Homo sapiens: one gene and its partner. The main gene of each other region encodes a partner of the protein of the gene in region 2 in a complex. Each region holds a gene or a part of one and is shown on either strand. Other genes may lie near its edges. The genes, in order: APLF and XRCC1.

The links.
Region 1: the proteins of XRCC1 (region 2) and APLF are in contact, whole or in part, in a crystal structure (PDB 5W7X), measured with the Homo sapiens proteins. Residues at the interface, in NP_006288.2 of Homo sapiens: Pro514, Tyr515, Ala516, Gly517, Ser518, Thr519, Asp520; in NP_775816.1 of Homo sapiens: Arg27, Gly28, Pro29, Gly32, Ile33, Thr34, Lys36, Arg37, Val38, Ser39, Arg40, Arg41, His58, Asn60.

Annotation. Positions count from the first base shown.
Region 1 is NC_000002.12:68,575,493-68,580,829, reverse strand, and holds the end of APLF (aprataxin and PNK-like factor), read right to left. Parts: intron 3,011-5,337; coding exon 2,808-3,010; 3' UTR 668-2,807; downstream 1-667. UniProt on the Homo sapiens protein: Histone chaperone involved in single-strand and double-strand DNA break repair.
Region 2 is NC_000019.10:43,551,515-43,558,773, forward strand, and holds part of XRCC1 (DNA repair protein XRCC1), read right to left. Parts: intron 3,291-7,259; coding exon 3,132-3,290; intron 2,170-3,131; coding exon 2,095-2,169; intron 1,999-2,094; coding exon 1,887-1,998; intron 1,578-1,886; coding exon 1,468-1,577; intron 1,395-1,467; coding exon 1,283-1,394; intron 762-1,282; coding exon 503-761; intron 174-502; coding exon 57-173; intron 1-56. UniProt on the Homo sapiens protein: Scaffold protein involved in DNA single-strand break repair by mediating the assembly of DNA break repair protein complexes. Negatively regulates ADP-ribosyltransferase activity of PARP1 during base-excision repair in order to prevent excessive PARP1 activity.

The DNA of each region.
Region 1 (5,337 bases), on a different chromosome or scaffold from region 2:
TGCACACACCATTATGGACTCCTGGCCAACAAAGAGACTGAATGGGAATGAGGTGGTCTCACAGAGCAGGGCTGGATGCAGCGTGCTGGTGGACAGTTTCCCCCTCAGTGAGGTGTGCTGGTGACACTGAACAATTAGTTGTAAGAAACTACCCATTTACTCTCAGCTTTACATCAACATTCTGGAGTAATTATGCTCACAATCTATCTGCTTTCATTACAATGAATGTTTAGGATCCTCTAGTTCTAGAAACTCAGTATCAATAGGGCCATCCTCAACCAGGGGAAAACACCAAAGTCAGTGTTCAAGTGTCCCCCAAAACTCTTCAGGTCTCCAGTTTCCCAGGGTCCTAGAAAACCCATCCCCCCTCAAAAGTTTAGCCAGAAAATATTTGCTTTTAAAATTAGGCACATAGGTGAGAAATGTATATATGATAATTTTTACCATGACAGAGGAGGCTGGGATATAGTTTCAGTTCCAGGAACACCATGACAGGGAGAATTGGCTCTTATCCACTGTATAGAACAGCAATTAATTTAAAAAATCAAGCTTTGTTAATGGTGCTCTTGAGACCACTGACAGCCTAATGTTACCGGTTTTCCCTCTGTTTTGGAAAACACAGATCTAAACACAGTCCAATTACACTTTCATTTTCATTACACTTCAGTCAATTAAGCTATACATTTATTTATACAATAGTTATACTCAAAAGTGTCTTCAGGATGATTATGAAAGTTGCATTAAAACTGTATCGTTAAAAGCAGCTACCATGAACTATTACATTACTACGAAGAATATCCTTTGATATTAAATATTTTTTTCCTTCTAAAAGACTGGTATTACCCTTTGCATTACTTTTTTGTGACAGATTTATTGAAATATATAGTTCACGTGCAATGAAATCTACCCTTTGAAAGTGTACAATGCATTGTTTGTAATATATTTACAGAGTTGTGCAACCATCACTGCCATCTAATCTTAGAACATTTTTATCACTCAAAAGGAAATCCTATACTCATTAGCAGTCACTCCCCATTCTTCCTCCCCAAGTCCCTGGCAACCACAAATTTGCTTTCTGTCTTTATGGATTTGCCTGTTTTGGAAATTTCATATAAATGAGTTCATACAGTATGTGGCCTTTTGTGTCTGGCTTCTTTTACTTGCCTTCAAGGTTCATCTATCTTGTAGCATGTATCAGTACTTTATTCCTTTTTATGACCAAATAATATTCCATTGCACAGATATACCACGTTTTGCTTATCCATTCACCCAGTTGATAGTTGATAGACTTTGGGTGTTTATACTTTTTGGCTGTTAAGAATAATGCTTCTATTGACATTGTGTACAGTTTTTATGTGGAAATGTTTTCAATTCCTCTGGGTATATACCTAGGAGTAGATTATGTAACACTTCAAGGATTAAGTTAGTGGCAGGGATGAGAATAAGTTAAATATTACATTCGTAGATTTGTTATACTACCAAGGCTAAAGGGACATTATAAGGGGAAAAATAGTTCCCAAATAACAATAAGAGATAAAAATCAGAATAATAGGTTATAGTCTAGAGAAATGTTTATCTTATTCTTGTTCCAGTTTAAGTAAATATTAAATATTGTATAATTACTGGGAGATATATTTTAAAGCAATGAGAAAATATTATTATAAATATGTTTTGATCTTTTAAGATATAAATTTTTAGGTTCCTTTAGAGTAGAAAATAATAGCATTTAACAAAGATTCTTTTGGCTTAGTGATTTATGATTTCAATAAATATCTCCTGCTCTGTGTACACAACCCAACTGTTATTAAAGATTCTAAACTACATTTTAACAATTCAAAGTCACGTAATATGAAGAGCATTATAGGGCTTAAAGTAGTTTTAGAACAGAAATACAGAAAGATACTTTGTAAAACTGGAGAATAAGTGGTTTCTTCTTGATATGGGAGGCCAGAATCTTGAACTTTCAACTGGCAAACAACTTGCTACTTTCATCTGAGGTCAAAAAAACTAAGGCAAAACTAATGCCATTTGAGAAAGTTATGTCGTTTCTCTATTCTTAATATAAAGACAGCACACTGAGAGTTAAAATAATCAGCTAGGACTTTAGTTTGAAAAAAAAGGTCAAGTTTTTTGAGTTTTTTTACTTTTAAATTCAAACATACAGTAAATTGCAGATGTGGAACACAAAATAACATTCCCTACATGGTGAACATTTCTCTTCTACAGCCTAGTTGAATCTATTTTCAGTACCCATTTGGAACCAATCTTCCCAAGTTTTGAAGGATAAAAGTAGTAAGTGAAATTGCAAAGCTCACATCTAAGGTACTAGAAAAAAAACGCCATTATGTAATGGCTGCATTTTTTAAAGCCTGGTTCTGCTTACAGAATTACTTCAGTAACAATGAAAAGAGGCATGTTTTCATGTACTTTGCCTGGTTATACTTGCAGAGTACTCCATAATCTTTGGAAAAAAATTTAAAAAGACCAAAGTTTTATGCAACCTATGGCTTTTACTTTTTATTACCAATATACAAAGTACATAAAAAATATCCATTTTTACTCTACCTTCTCTGTCTTCCTATTTCCAGATGCTTTAAGTAGGAAAGAAAAGGCAAGGCAACAAAAAATTCCATCTATTATACTGAAGGCTGACGTTTCAATGTCTCATTTGTAAAGAGTCAGTAGTAAAAGTCATTAACTATCAAAAGAAGGAAAATAACTGTCACTTAAGTACCTCCTTAGTTCATAAATGTTTTCCCACAAAGAAAAAGTAAATGTAAGGCAGATATGACTACAGAAGTTAGTTACTATTTTCTTTTCATAAACCTTTTTGCTTCTTTCAAAAGCTCTTCCACATCTTCCTTCTCTTCATCTTCCTTTCCTGGTTCCCAGTCAGAATCTTCATCTGTTGGCTCATAGTCTTCTTCCTCATCATCTAGAAAGCTGTCGTTCAGGTCATACTCATTGGGTTGCCCAACATTATCATTATCTTCATCTAAAACATTTCTCACTGCAAAACAGAAGATTGGTACACAACACATCAATCACCACTCAACCTGGGATGACAGACATCTACCTATAAAATGTCTTTCTGCATCCAGAGGATTAATTTTATTAATGCATAGCTTACCACTACAAATTTCTGGAAACGGCACTAAAATGATGCTTTGTTATTTATTATTCTAACTTTTCCTACCATGAGGCTCCTGAAACTAAAATGACCCATGAGATTAATAATAATGGTTCCTTAATCTCATAATCATATTCACAACATCCCATCTTCCCATGTGGTAGAATGTATTTTTGTCCCAATTATTCACTGCCCCTTCCTGTGATATGATTATACTTCCTCACTTCTCAGTGATTGCTCAAAGAAATGTGAGTGGAAATAGTGTGTGTCACTTCCAAAAGGATGCTTTAAGACTCTTTCTCTGGTTCTGCTATTGCCATTTCCCCTCTGCCACAAGAACAGCATGTCCCAGATAGAGGCTGATCCCTCAGCCTGGATTCCAAGATGAGAATACACATGGCACAGGGCCACAGCCAATTCACAGCTGCAATAAGGAGAAATACACTTAAATAAGTGTATTTATTGTTATAAGGCACTGAAATTTAGAAATGTTTGTTATCACAGCAAACCTAGCAAAAGCTTGCTGACACATCAGGGCGTGAGCTTAGATACTTTGGAAAGTTTAGTTTTATAGGTCTAAGATATTCTTACAGTTCATGTTTCAGTAAGACTAGGAATGCCATAATAATAGACATTAGAATTTACAGATTTCTAAGTAATATTATAATACTAGAATTCTTCTGTCTCCAAATTCATTTCTTCCCCGATCTTACTCTTTCCACAGCGAGCTACAGAGTTGCTTTAAAATAAAGCAGTGAAAGACTCTAGGACAGTGTGGAACATTTAAGAAACAATTAGGAAGATTTCATCTAGAAATCTGAATGGCAGAGGACAGTCCCTAATGAACAGCAAATGTATAGGTTAAAAACATTAATGTCTGTACTTTAGTATACACTTTGGTTAACATCTTTCTAAAATGTTCACATGCAACATATAGTTATAATTTTAAAAATAAAGTCAATGAATTGGGAAAAATGAGAAAAATGACAAAGGAAGTAATGTATCTGTCCTTTTAACCCTTATAGCCCAATATATTTATATTTTTCTTAATATCAGTACGCATTCCAGAAAGGATTTGAGACAGCTTATAATAATAAAATGCTAATAAAGGTAGAAACCAAAAACATAAAAAGCAGAATACACATATGATAACCTCAATTTTTAACACAATTATTAAAAATAGAGCATCAAATTTATCCCCAAGATTCTTGGTAGCCAAGGCTAAAAAGGCAATATAATAACTTGCCCAATTATCATTATAGTAGGAAGCTCACCAGTTCCTTAAGGAAAATCTTGCATTACATATATCTGTATATACAGCTCCTGTAAACATCTTGAGGGCATGTTTTATGTCTAATCTCAGTTACCCATATTTTTAAAATAATAAAATGCATTTTTTAAAAATTGGAAGGCAGTTTGCAGTCGGGAAAGGGAATGAGAAGGAAAGAACATCAATATCTCTATTTTTGTCTATTTTCCTCTTGGAAATACCTTATACACATAACTTTTTTTTCTAAGATGTGAATGCACATTATCACATAACATGTCCTAATGATATCTCAATAAACAGTTTCCTTTCAGATTCAGAAATCACTTACCAGCTTTACAAGAAAAACAGATATAAAGGTGAAACAACTCCAGGTTCTCTGCTCACTTCATTGGCTGCTCCTTCTCAGTTTTCTTTGCTGGATTTTCCTCATCATCCTAATCTCTAAATTTTAGAGCTGGAACCTCTTCTCTAACTCACTCCTTAGATGATTCCATCCAGTCTTATGTCCTAAATTCCCAAATTCACATCTTAAGCCCTGACCTACTGCCCTGAATTCCAGACTCATTTATCTGGATACTTAAGCATTATCTGTACTTGGATGACTTACAGGCACCTGGAATATAACATTTCCAGAACATAACTCTTTAGTTGCTTTACCCAGATCTGGTCATTCTATTTATCAGTCTTGAATATATGACTTCTCTAATCATCCAACCATCTAGTTGTTTTAGCAAGAAATCTTGTAGTCATCCTTTAATATCCCTCACCGAGAACCCAACATCTAATACCTCAAGAGATCCTGTTAGCTTTACCTGCAAAGTAAATCCACCACTTCTGATCACATCCACTCTAATGCCCTGGCCCCAATACTATCATTTTCTTCCTGAATACAATATCCTCCTAACTGGCTCTCTTGCTTCCATTCTAGTCTATTCTT
Region 2 (7,259 bases):
ATTCCTGGCATTGCCCAGCACAGGATAAGGAGCAGGGTTGGCGTGTGAGGCCTTACCTCTGGGAGGGCAGCCGCCGACGCATGCGGTGACAGTCCAGCACCCACTCCTTACGCACGATGCGGCCTCCCAGGCCTAGGACCTGGCTGTACTTGGGGGTGTTGGCAAAGGCACAGCTGGTGGGGGGCAGAAGTGAAGATGCCAGTTAGGTGTGATCTGAGGGGCAAAGGGGAACGAGACAGGGGAGACAGACAGAGAGAGAGAGAGACAGACAGACAGACAGATCATGAGATTGAGGTGGGAGAAACAAAAAGAGGTTGGAGACCAAGGGAGAGATGCAAAAATCAGAGAGAAGACAAAGGCTACAGAATGCAGTGAGAAAGAAAGCAAGTGAGAGAGAGAGAAAGCATGCAGCATAGTGGACACAGAGAAAGCACAAGGTGGAGGAGACACAGGGAGCTGGGGGAGAAACTGCAGCGGCGCAGGGAGGGGGGCGCAAGCCTACATGAGGTGCGTGCTGTCCCGGGTCCAGTCTGGCCGATACTTGGCCCCAAGCTCTAGGGCCTTATCTCGCAGCTCGGAGCGGAAGGGGTTCTGGAAGCCACTCAGCACCACTACCACACCCTGAAGGATCTTCCCCAGCTCCTCTGGGCCAGCTCGGGGTCGTCTGGGCTCGGTGCCTTCTCCTCGGGGTTTGCCTGTCACTGCCCCCTGTGCTCGGGCAGGGACTGGGGCTGTGGCTGGGGTACGAGTTGGAGCTGGCACTGGAGAAGACAAAGAGTAGATTAGGTTAGCACCACTGGGGGTCAACCCCCAGCCCCTCCTCCCTCAGACCCAGCAGTCCAGGCCCCAGACCCTCCTCCCTCAGACCCAGCAATCCAGGCCCCAGCCCCTCCCCCCTCAGACCCAGGGGTCCAGGCCCCCAGCCCCTCCTCCCTCAGACCCAGGAGTCCAGGCCCCCAGCCCCTCCTCCCTCAGGCCCAGGAGTCCAGGCCCCCAGCCCCTCCTCCCTCAGACCCAGGGATCCAGGCCCCCAACCCCTCCTCTCTCAGACCCAGGGGTCCAGGCTCCCAGCCCCTCCTCCCTCAGACCCAGGGGTTTAGGCCCTCAGCCCCTCCTCCCTCGGATTCAGGAATCCAGGCCCCCAGCCCCTCCTCCCTCAGACCCAGGGGTCCAGGCCCCCAGCCCTTCCTCCCTCAGATTCAGGACAGCAGGCTCCAGCCCCGCTTCCCCTAGGACACAGGAGCACAGGCCCCTGTGGAAACAAGGGATCTAGTTAGCTCACATTTAGGTCTCTTGGGAACAGATGGCGACAGCTGGGCTGGTGGTTTGCTGGGGGTCTTCTTTTCTTCTTGGTTCAAATCCAACTTCCTCTTCCCTTTGGGAGACTCCTGGGGCTGAGGGGATGGGGATGGATTGAGGCCTCCAGCTTCTCTCCTCCTCCACCCCACCAAAGTCTGATGATTTCACCTTGGAGGTGCTGCCTATGGCCCTGGAGACTGGAGAGGCTGAGGAGGCAGCACTAGAAGCCTGGAGGGTAGCAGCTGCATAGCTAGGTCCTGCTGGGTCGCTGGCTGTGACTATGAAGGGAGAAAGTGGATCCAGGATGAGAGGGCTGAGCCCCAAGACCCTTTCACTCCTATCTATGGGACACAGAATATTGTTGCCAAAACCCACCAGTGATCCAGGAGTCCCAGCCTCCAGACCTCTCAACCCTCAGGACACAAGAGGCCAGGCCCACCTTCCTCCACCCTGAGACCCAGGAGTCCAGGACTCCACTACCCTCCTCCCTCAGACCCAGGAATCTGAGCCCCAGCCCCCTCTACCCTCAGACCCACGAGTCTAGGTCTCAACCCTACTCACTCAGGACCCACGTTGTCCGAGCTCACCTGGGGATGTCTTGTTGATCCGGCTGAAGAAGAGAGCCCCCGGCCTCAGAGAGTTGGCGCTCTCATCCTCCTCCTTCACACGGAACTGGCCAAGCTTGGTCACTGTCACCTTCTAAGGTCCCGCAAGGTCAGTATTATAGGTGGGCTGCTGGCAGGTGGGGGTGGAGAGGCAGGGAGAAGGCCATGGGGAGTGACAGGTACAGCTTACCTGGGACGGGGCCTCTGCCTCATCTTTGTCTGGGGGGCTATGAAACCGTACAAAACTCAAGCCAAAGGGGGAGTCCTGGGAAAGGAGGGGTGGGAGTCAGGGAGTCTGGCCCAAGGACAGAGGCCAGGGCCCAAGACCCTTTTCACTCAGGGAAACCTCTTCCTGGCTCCTTCCCTCTCATGAACACCCATGTTGAAGGAGGGGCCCTGGCGATGGTGATGACAATTATAGGATTAAGCTGTTATGACTGAGCCCTAACTCTGAGTCTGGCTCCAAGCCCTTTTCACGCATTAGCTCTTTGGGCAATTGGCAGAGTCTACTAGGTGTCCCAGCGAATTCACTGCCCTATGCACAAACTCCTGCCTGTGGAATGGGAGGGAGTGCTGCGTGCCACTTCCAGAACACAGAAGTGTTCCAGGCTCTCTCCTCTGCCAGCTGGATGCAGAGCCAGAAAATAGGAGAAGTCTGGGTCCCTGCACGACCTCATAAGGAGAAGCCAGCTGACAGGCTAAACACTCCCCAGGACAGTTACCTGGGCAAGAAGCACACCTTTAGTGTGTGGCATCATCACATACTCCAGTCTCACTGTTACCACAGCTTTTAGCATCCCTTAACCTACAGCAACCCTGTAAGGATCAGGCAATGGAGGCCCAGAGAGCGTAAGTCACTTGCCCAAGATCACACAGCTAAAAAGTGGTATAGCCAGGACGTGAACTCAGTAATCAGACGCCAGATCTCCTGATGTTAACTACTAGGCCCACTCTACTAGGCCACCTCTCTAACAAGTCAGTTCCCCTCCTCCGATTCCCCTCTGAGATGCTGCAGTTCACCCTTCCTAGATTCCTCCGGGAGATGAAACTTCTCATTACAGGAAAGATCCCAAACCCATTTCAGGGAACGCAGGGACCCAGCCTCCCCATAATCCCATGGGACACCAGCTGTCTACTCCTCCCAGCCCTATGGGACTCAATATTGGCCCTTATTTCCCTCCTTGCCCAGGACCAAGGACTCTGCACCCTGGCTCCCACCCTAGGTACCTTGCTGTAGGGCTGGCTGCAAACAATTTTGACCCGGTCCCAGCGCTTCTCGGCGGCTGCCCGGACCAGCTTGTCAGGCCCAAACATGCGAACGCGGTTGGGGTTTGAGCCACTGCGGCTCTCGGAAGGGGACATGAAAGATGAGGTGACCAGAAGGACCTGGGTGGGAGAAGCCACAGTGCATGAGAACCAGGGCAGGTTGGCTTAGATGAGAGCTTCTAGGGGCTGGGGAAGAGGGCACAGGGCCCACACAGGGGACTGGGAGTCACTAGAATGTAGCTTGGGCCTAGATGTCTCCAGACCCTTTGTTTCTAGGCCTTGAGTCAGTCCTGCCCTGACACAGGCCCCAGAGGGATCTCTTTATCCTCCAGATGTGAGCGACCCTTATCTAAATTCTCCCATGGAGTCTTCCATATCTGGCAATACAGCGGGCTACATGTCCTAAGGAACTTTCCCGGCAGAGAATATTCAGTAAACTGGCACAATATTCAAACACCTTTTGGAAATGCACAGGTGAGTCAGCGGAAAGGCAAGGGGAATTACTAGAGGCTGGAAATGAGAAAACAGAATCCAGAGAGTCAGGCGAGCTGCACTAAGTATTAAGTGATTGTTTCTCAGCTCAAACCTACCCTCTACAACTCATCTCTGTGATCTGGGCCCGCACTTGGCAAACCACCTTTCTGCTTCCCTAGCTGATCGTGACCAGGCTCTGCCAATAGGGGGGGCAAGAGAGAGAGTTTGCAAGGCTGCAGGAGGGAGGAAGGACCAGCTTCTCGTGCATTGCAGATCCTGTGAGCATCACCCCCAGTTAAGCTTCTGCTGCTGCAGTGGTTCCTGCCTGCAGCAGCAGATGAATCCAGTTTGCAGTGTCCCAATACCTCCAGAAACAGCCTCATTCAGCCCCTCTCAGCAGCCGGTGGGGGAGGAAGCCCTCCTCAAACGATCTGAATTTCAGCTCCTGGAGCCCCACCTCCCAGTTTCCAAACATCTACGTTTCAATAATTCCTGCTCCTTTCTTTTGTTCCCCCAACCCTGGGAGTGGTAGCTACTCCCTGCGGTTGCTTCTCCCTCATATCTTAGTCTTCTAGTAACACCTAGTTACTGGTTCTTTCTATCAAATTATCTGTTAAAATAACTGGTGTGGTTTTAATCTCCGGGCAAGGACCCTGACTGACCCGGCAGCACTCATGTTGGTAGTTTGTCATGGTGCTGATCCCAGATAGCAAATAACTTGATTTTATTTATTATTATTATTTTTTTAAGAGACAGGGTCTTTCTCTGTCACCCAGGCTGGAGCACAGTGGTGCGATCATAGCTCACTGCAGCCTCGACCTCTGGGTCTCAAGTGATTCTCCCACCTTGGCCTCTGAGTAGCTGGGTCTAGAGATGCACGACACCACACCTGGCTAATTTTTTATTTTTTGTAGAGGCATGGTCTTGCTATGTTGCCCAGGCTGGTCCTGAACTCCTGGCCTCAAATGATCCTCTCACCTCAGCCTCCCAAAGCTATAGAAGTACAAGTGTAAGCCACCACACCCAGCTAGAACTTGATCTTTAAGGGTTATGCACGTGGTGGTGAAAGAGAACAAGAGAGAAAACCTAGGCTCCAAGCAAGGGAGAGTGGCATCTCAGAGATCCTCACCACACTGCATAGAACTGAGGACTCCCCAAAGGCAACGCCCACACTAGTTACATGAAGGGGAAATAAGCCTGTGGAAAGAGTCCCTGGGAGGCCTGTCTGTCTTGGCCTTAGCTTGGGGGGACACCAAAGAAGAGGTGAAAATTCTTCTCGGGAGAACTCCTCACAAGTCTGTTCTCTCAAGGAATTGAGAGTAGCAATTCATGTTAGCAATCTGCATTGAAAAACCCAAGCTGAGGCCAGGCGCGGTGGCTCACGCCTGTAATCCCAGCACTTTGGGAGGCCAAGGCAGGCGGATCATTTGAGGTTAGGAGTTCAATACCAGCCTGGCCAACATGGTAAAACCCCATCTCTACTAAAAATACAAAATTTAAGCCAGGCATGGTGGCAGACGCCTGTTGTCCCAGCTACTCGGGAGGCTGAGGCACGAGAATTGCTTGAACCCAGGAGGCGGAGGTTGCAGTGAGCTGAGATCGCACCATTGCACTTAAGCCTGGTGGACAAGAGGCCAGGAGTTCAAGACCAGCCTAGCCAACATGGTGAAACACCGTCTTTACTAAAAATACAAAAATTAGCTGGACATGGTGGTAGGCACCTATAATCCCAGCTACTCGAGAGGCTGAGGCACAAGAATCGCTTGAACCCAGGAGTTGGAGGTGATGGTGAGCCGAGATTGTGCCACTGCATTCCAGCCTGGGTGACGGAGCAAGACTCTGCCAAAAAACAAAAAACGAAACAAAAAGACTGGGCACAGTGGCTCACACCTGTAATCCCAGCACTTTGGGAGGCCAAAGCAGGCAAATCACGAGGTCAGGAGATCGAGACCATCCTGGCCAACATAGTGAAACCCCATCTCTACTAAAAATACAAAAAAATTAGCTGGGCATGGTGGCGCGTGCCTGTAGTCCCAGCTACTCGGGAGGCTGAGGCAGGAGAATCACTTGAACCCAGGAGGCGGAGGTTGCAGTGAGCCAAGATTGCGCCACTGCACTCCAGCCTGGCAATAGAGCGAGACTCCGTCTCAAAAAAAAAAAAAAAAAAAAAAAAGATGAATGCAGCCACTTTTGGTTGGGTATATTTTGTTACTGACTTAGTCTCTTTTCTAACTGACATGCTGTGAAATTATAAAATTGGACAATAAAGCCTTTTGCTGAGAAAAACAGAACATAACTATAGCTCTCTTTGTGCACAGCTGATTATGCAAAGGAAACAAGAAAGACAATTATACAGAAGGGAAGTTTTCTTCCTGACCTTGACTATACTTGTTTATAAAAGGCCTGATTTGGAGCTGACAGGGAAGCTGCATTTATCATCTGGTGACTAACATGGGAAAACCCTGTCCTACTAAATACAAAAAAAATAGCCATGCATGGTGGCACAGGCCTGTAATCCGAGCTACTTGGGAGGCTAAGATGGAGAATCGTTTGTACCTGGGAGGCGGAGGTTGCAGTGAACCGAGATTGCACCACTGCACTCCAGCCTGGGCAACAGGAGCAAAATTCCATCTCAAAAAAAAAAAAAAAAAAAAAAAAAAAGGAAGGAGGGAGGGAAGGAGGGGAGGGAGAATGGAAGGAAGGAAGGCTCCTGTGACTTTGGGTTTGTGCCTTTGATGTTTTTGAAGAGTAGAGGTCAGTGATTTTTGTCAGATATCACTTATTGTACAAAGTATCTGATGTTTCCTTGTGATTAATTTAGGTTGCACACTTTGGCCAGAATACCACAGAAGTGATGTGTAATATACAGTTTATTTTGTATATTGACTTCTCATCTTGTGACCTTCACTTACTAAACCTTGTAGTTTGTCTAGATCTCTTGGGATTTTCTGCATAGACAATCATGCCATCTGTGAAAAAAGATAGTTTTCTTTTTTCTTTTTCTCACCTTGTCACACTGACTAGTGCAAAGTTGGGCATGGTGGTGCAAGCCTGTAGTCCCAGCTACTTGAGGGGCTGTGGAAGGAGGATCACTTGAACCCGGGAGGACAAGGCTGCAGTGAGCTGAGATCGTGCCACTGCACTCCAGCCTGGGTGACAAAGTGAGACCTCGTTTCAAAAAAAAAAGAGTAGGCCAGGTACACACAGCAGCTCACATGTGTAATCCTAGCACTTTGGGAGGCCGCAGCAGGTGGATCACCTGACCTCAGGAGTTCAAGACCAGCCTGGGCAACACAGTGAAACCCTATTTCTACAAAAAATATTTAAAAATTAGCCGGGCATGATGGCTCCCACTAGCTACTTGGGGGGCTGAGGCGGGAGGATCACTTGAGCCCAGGAGGCAGAGGTTGCAGTGAGCTGAGATCATGCCACTGTACTCCAACCTGAGCAACAGAGTGAGACCCCCATCTCAAATAAATAAATAAATAAATAAATAAATACATATATACATAAATAAATAATATGGTTAAAAAAAGAGACAGTTTGGTATTGGCATAAAGAAAACTATACATATCAATGGAACAGAGAAGAGAGTACAGAAATAAACCCATACAT